Homo sapiens: one gene and its partner. The protein of the gene in region 2 interacts with the protein of the main gene of each other region in a pairwise test. Each region holds a gene or a part of one and is shown on either strand. Other genes may lie near its edges.

Region 1 (3,500 bases), on a different chromosome or scaffold from region 2:
AAACTAAAAAAGGGACTCCACCAGAAGAACGCAAATCCTCAAAAAGGACATTTTTCCCCATTCTAAGATGTTTTTCAAAAAACTGGGAAGCATCTTAAAAATAACAGCTCAGCTTATAAAATGCCAAATAGGTTTTGATATTTCTGATAAAACTTGCCTTGTGAACCTCTGGAATGGTATTTAAGTCCTCAGACAGTTTACTTGCAAAAGAACCATAAACACCATCATTCATATAATACATGAAGGCTGGTTCATCACTTCCGGTTTTTTCTACTGGAATAAAACAGGAAAGGGGAAAATGAATTTTTAATAAAATGGCTCATATGAAACAAATTAATGTAATTTTCACATTTCTCAAACTATTTAAACTTAAAAAGACACATAGAGCACGCATTTCACAAAGGAAGATAACCAATGAGCACAAGAAAAGAGTGCTCTAGGGCTGGATGCGGTGGCTCATACCTGTAATCCTAGCACTTTGTGAGGCTGAGGTGGGAGGATCACTTGAGGTCAGGAGTTCAAGATCAGCCTGAACAACATGGCAAAACTCCATCTCTACTAAAAATACAAAAATTAGCCAGGTGTGGTGGTGCATGCCTGTAATCACAGCTACTTGGGAGGCTGAGGCACTAGAATCCCTTGAATCCGGGAGGCGGAGGTTACAGTAAGACAGTGAGACAGTGAGCCAAGGCTGTGCTACTGCACTCCAGCCTGGGTGACAGAATGAGACCCTGTCTCAAAAAAAAAAAAAAAAAAAGAAAAAAGTATTAAGATTCTAGAAGACTTTCTGATAGTTGCTGTTTCAAAAAAAGAGGAAATGAAGCAGCAAGGAAAAACACTTTTTAGTTTCTTTTCAAATCAGCAAGGGGAAGGCAATATATGCACAAGGAGTTAAATATGTGTTTGAATGTAGAATTAAAAATAAAAGTTGAGATTGTGCCACTCATTCCAGCCTGGATAACAGAGCAAAAACCCTGTCTCAAAAACAAAAAAAAAAAAGAAAAGAAAAAGAAAAAGAAAACAGTGCTCTACATCGTTAGTCATCAGGTAAATGCAAATTAAAACCACAATGGACTACCATTACCACCAACCTACTGACTGGATCAACTTAAAGACTGACACTACAAAACATCAGAGAGCAGGAGGAGCAACCAGAGCTCACATGTATACACTGCCAGTGGGAATCTGTGTGTGTGTGTAGAGACAGGGCCTCACTGTTACTCAGGCTACAGTGCAGTAGCGTGATCACAGGTCACCGCAGCCTCGAGCTTCAGGGATCAATAGATCCTCTCACCTCACTTTGAAACCTTTGAAAACGCCCATTCTACTCACAGCTACTCTACTCTTAGCACAACCAATACTAATTTTCAGGTTTTTAAAATATCACTCTCCACGAAAACAAACCAAGGCTCCCTGGAGAAACAACTGATTACGGGACTGAGGCTCATTTAAAAGGTTAAAATGAGCCTGGAACATCTTGATATACCAAAAAATAACGAATTGCTCTGAGAATAATGGAGACATGTCAAGGGAAAAATAAGAGTAACAGATTATATAAACCTATTGAATAAAGATCTATGAGTCTAAACTCATAAACAGGAGGGAAGGAAAAGATATTCTTTAAGTAAAGGCCAACTAATATAAACAATAATGAAGTTAGAAATTCAACAATAGATGCTAAAACTAATGGGGTGAAAATCTGGTTAAAAACAGGTAGTTTACAGAGTCTCTAATTTAAACTTGCCACTTCACAATGGAAAGAAACCTGCCTGACACAACCTTAAACAAGTGCTCAAAACTAGCATTTAAATTAAAAAAAAAAAAAAAAATCTAGCCGGGTGTGGTGGCACGCACCTGTAATCCCAGCTACTTGGGAGGCTGAGGCAGGAGAATTGCTTGAACCTGGGAGGTGGAGGTTGCAGTGAGCTGAGATCATGCCACTGCATTCCAGCTTGGGCAACAAGAGCAAAACAGTCTCAAAAAAAAAAAAAAAAAAAAAATCATAAGGCCAGGTGTATTGACTCAAGTTTGTAATCCCAGCACTTTGGGAGGCTGAGGCAGGTGGATCACTTGAGCTCAGGAGTTTGAGACCAGCCTGAGAAACACGACGAAACCCTCTACAAAATAAAAATAGAAAAAAACCTAGCCAGGCATGGTGGCATATGCCTGTAGTCCCAGCTATGCAAGAGGTTGAAGGTAGGAGGACTGCTTAAGCCGGGAGGTGGAGACTGCAATGAGCCCTGATGGAGCCACTGTACTCCAGCCTGGGCGACAAAACAACAAGAAAAAACACCTAGCATCATCAATATTAGAATTGGCCACTATCATGTGCCTCCTAACATGATGAAGTGAGAAGAACAGAGTAACACTTTAGTGGACTTCATGCCCCAAATGCATAGCCTAAAAAATTAATCATGAGGAATCATCCAACAAACCCAAACTAAGGATCAGCTATGAAATTTCTACTCTTCAAAAATGTCAAAGTTAAAAAATACAAAGTAATGAGCTGAGAAACTTTATCTAGATTCAAGGAGAAATGACGAATTCAATGTGGTCCTGGACTGGATTCTAAGCAAGGAAAAACAAAGCTGTAAAAAAAAGACAATATTGGGGAAATGGACAACTTTCCTATGGGCTGTGGATTAGTCCACAGCCAAAAAAAAAAGTCTTCTTAATGTAAAACAGTATTTCCTACAATATTAGCCAACAAGATGGTACTGTCTAGTGCCTTTTTGTTGGTTTGACTTGAGTTAGATTACAGGGACTCTTTGTGGCCCTTATGTGAGAAAGTGTGAAAACAGAGCCTCCCTCTGACCCATGTGAGGTAAGGAGAACAGAAAAGATCACAATAAAAGTAGTTCTGAATAATGGATGAGAATTAATCATCTGCTAGACATTTATCTAAAACACACGTATCTAAACATCAGTACCAAGAAAGTTGGATTTGGAAGTCTTACGGAATGGGACCTTGGCTTTAAGATTTTTTTTTTTTTTGAGACGGAGTCTCACTCTTGTCACCCAGGCTGGAGTCCAGTGGCACAATCTTGGCTCACTGCAACCTCTGCCTCCCGGATTCAAGCGATTTTTGTGCCTCAGCCTCCCGAGTAGCCGGGATTACAGGTGTGCGCCACCATGACCAGCTAAGTTTTATATTTTTAGTAGAGATGGGGTTTCCACCATATTGGCCAGGCTGGTCTCGAACTCCTGACCTTGTGATCCACCTGGCTCTGCCTCCCAAAGTGCTGGGATTATAGGCGTGAGCCACCACGCCCGGCCAGTTTTAAGATTTTTAAAAGCTGAAAACCACCTACAACTTCATGACCATCTGCTCATTTCCAGACTAACTGCAATTATCTACCAACAAAAATAAAACTATAAACTTTATAACTTACCTCCAGAGGGAAATTTATCATTTTCAACAACTTTCTTTGCTATGATATTAACTGCGAGTGTAAATGCAGAAGACACATAGTAGCTTCCGGGTTCTGAAATTATCTTAA
Region 2 (3,500 bases):
GAGTGAGTGACTAGCAATGAATCAGAGAGAAGATTCTCAGGAAAGAGGCTGGGCTTTTATAGATAGAGAGGAAGGAAGGATGACTTAGCCATTTCCAAACCTACCTGAACAGATACATAAATAATGCCAAGAGGAATGACGATGATGGTGAAGACAGGAGTGGCCATGCAGATCATGACAAGGGTGCTGATTATCCCCAGGAAGCATGTAATCCAGCTGCGCAAGGACTGAGGCAGGGTGTCATCCACTGTGGAAATATCCTAGGAAAACGATTAGGAGAGATACACCATCACTGAGGTCTTCCTAAGATAGTTTACATCTTCCTAGTTCTAGCAAGGAATCTGTTGGATTCTGTGTGTTCCCAGTACTCCTTCATGTAATCATTTCATTGTGTTCATTTGCAATAGGCTGCATTGCTTGCCCCAATAACCAATTTCATTTCCATAATTTCTTCATTTAGGCCTGGCGTGGTGGTCACACCTGTAATCCCAGCACTTTGCAAGGCCGAGGCGGGTGGATCACCTGAGATCGGGAGTTCAAGACCAGCCTGACCAACATGGTGAAATCCCATCTCTACTAAAAATACTCAGGAAGTTGCTTCCTCTGCTAAGCATAGAGGACCAAGGGGAAGGGAGCTGGGGTTGAATGTGAGCCTGCCTGGACAGTGTTCTAACCAAGGAACCCAGCGGGAACAGATGTGTCTTACTGCCATGTTGCCTTCGTGTCATGTGAAATAAATGAACAAATAAGAAAAATGAATGAATGGATGGATGGTTTGGAGAACACTCAAGAAGCTTGGTTTATATTTTGGGTTGCCCTTGCCTAAATTTGTGGGGATTATATTGATTCTATGATTGGTAATATGTGAGTACCAAAGTGAGTTTAAGTTATCTCTGGAATTTCTCAAACTGTATCAGGGATAATGGTCTTCCAGGAAAGCTCTGAATCATGGATGACTCCTGAGTCTAACCTACCTTTCCCAAAGTCCTATCAGAATGCAAATAACTATACCCACAGTTGGCAGAGAAAAGAAATCCCTACCAGTTATCAGTTCTATGCAGATTACTTTTGATCCTTACCTGGCACAGAGTCTCCATCTTTCCTTCCTCCACTCCATCTCCTCTTAACTCAGCCATTGATCCCAGAGGCCCCTTGATCAAACTCCCCTTAATAGGTCTGAGCCACCTCCCCAACGAAACATACTATATAATTAATGACAGTTTCCTTTCTCATGCAAAAGCAGTCTTCAAACTATGACTGTTGCCTAAGTAACTCACAGAAAACCTCTGTGTTCTCTTTCCCAGAAGATTATATATATTACAACATGGGGAAAACTGTGATCTTTACAAAATTACTATGAGAAATTTCTCACCCAAAATTGAGTGTTCTTTTAGGTTCTAGTAAAGAGCAGAAAGGCCATTGAAGTTGTCTCTAGTGACATCATGCCCACTGTTTCTGCCCCAGAGGAAGATGACACAGGGGGACCAGTTAATGGCCCACTTTTGAAGCAGTTACTGTGTCCCCAGAACCTGGCTGTGGACTGTGAGCTATACTTTCTATGTCTGCCCCAAGACCAACAAACAAGAGTCCAGAGCTGCTCCATAAGCACAGGGCTAAAAACTGTGCTGGTGATAGTTACTTATCATTCAGAATTGCCTGATCTCTGCCTCTGTTCCTGAATTCCCATCTCAGATACACTAAAAAATCAGTGAGTTGGGTCTGGCCCATGGAAGAGAGACATCTATGATCTTCACATTCATTGAGTGCCCCAGTGTCTAGTACAGTAGTTGGCTCATAGAAAGTGCTCAATAACGGTTGTTGAATGAATGAATGAGTGAATGCCAAGGGGTCCAGGATCTGTGGTAGATGGAAACAATATTTGAGAACTTTTTAAAATCACTGATGGCTCTATTCCATAGTCCAGACCAAATTTACTCATTCTTAAAGCATTCAAGATAGAAGTTTCAGGAATGGAGGCAGAGGCCAAGCAAAGGGTTATCCTACTATCTCTTGTATTTCCTGTCCCAGGCTGTGACAGTGCTTTTATTTATGTTCCTTCCTCTGCAGAATAATCCTTCTCACCCTGCTCTACTGCCATCCCCCAACCCTTGCCATCTCCCTGGCTTGCTTCTATGACTTAAGTTTCACCTTTTCTGACATTTCCCACCTTTATCACGCAGGCTGGGCTAGTGCCTTTTTTTCCTTTGTACTCCCAGACCACCTTTCTACACACTGCTGTTACTGGTTTTACTATATTCTATTATAATCCTTCACTTCTTTGGTTGTCTTCTTCACTAGATGCTGAGCTACTTGAAGGGTCAGAGATGTTCATCCCTCAATCTCCAGGATTCTTGGGAGCTCACAGCAGGTACTCAAGAAACACTTGCATGTTGAGTGACAAAAGAACTGGAACTGAACAGTGTTGTCTAGGGGGACATAATAATTCCTCCCTATCAGAAAGATCCTCAGTATATAAACACACCACCTGACAGTTCTTGAGATACTTACGCCGGCAAACCTGTTCACAATCCGGCCTGTGGGTGTTGTGTCAAAAAATCTCATAGGTGCTCGAAGGATATTGTTCAGCAGTTGCTTGTGCAAGATATTTGATGCATGGACGAAACCAAAGGCACTCCAGAAATGTGCTATGAACACAAATATACCTAGAGATGGAAGCAGTTTTGTCAGCACCATGCACAGGAATCCCTGAAGACTTGTGCCCAGGACATAATGGCAAATGCATTCCTGAGTCCAGGAAAAGTACAGGGTCCAGACAGATTCTGTAAGATGTCATAGCCATCAGACATACCTTGGGCTAATCCCAGAGCTCCGTAGACTCCAACTCTCATGTCCCTCTGAGATGCTGGATAGTCGGTGCTATTGAAGATTTTAGAGTCACTGGTCCAAGCACTGAGCCAGAGGTTGGATCCAATAAAAGCCACAGAATTCATCACAAACGCAAGGATGATGAAGAATATCGAAAACAATCCTATTGCTTGTAGGTACTCCAGGTAGATGGAGAACTTCACCTGCAAAGTCCCCACCTCAATATTAGTAGAACTCCCTAATGGCTTTTGATAAGGAATCACCTAGAATGCCAACCACAAGGAGAAGTGGAGTCCCCTGGGAGCATGGGTAGCAGGTAGCAAAATTTGGTAGTCTGTGGTCACCATTTCTGCACTGTGCCAGGAAGGATAATAGAACAATGCTGAAATACAATGCAGGGTAAATAATCATCAAAGCTAAAGGCATTTAAGAGGAGAAGATATAAAAACAGATTGGGACAAGCCAGACATGATAGCATGCCCCTGTAGTCCCAGCTACTCAGAAGGCTGGTGTGGGAGGATCTCTTGAGCCCTGAGGTTTTAGTCCAGCCTGGGCAACATAGTGAGACCCTGTATCTAAAATAAACACACAAACAAAAAATCAGAGTGGAACAGATGATGGGGTTCTACTGCCGACCTTGAAATTTGTGGTTAAATTTCATTAATTTGAATTAT

Evidence for each region. The genes of interacting proteins can lie anywhere in the genome.
Region 1: the proteins of ABCC2 (region 2) and AZIN1 interact in a two-hybrid assay, tested with the Homo sapiens proteins (one large-scale study listed by BioGRID and IntAct).

The regions. Positions count from the first base shown.
Region 1 is NC_000008.11:102,829,664-102,833,163, forward strand, and holds part of AZIN1 (antizyme inhibitor 1), read right to left. Parts: coding exon 3,393-3,500; intron 274-3,392; coding exon 158-273; intron 1-157.
Region 2 is NC_000010.11:99,831,140-99,834,639, reverse strand, and holds part of ABCC2 (ATP-binding cassette sub-family C member 2), read right to left. Parts: intron 3,030-3,500; coding exon 2,810-3,029; intron 2,664-2,809; coding exon 2,509-2,663; intron 261-2,508; coding exon 105-260; intron 1-104. UniProt on the Homo sapiens protein: ATP-dependent transporter of the ATP-binding cassette (ABC) family that binds and hydrolyzes ATP to enable active transport of various substrates including many drugs, toxicants and endogenous compound across cell membranes.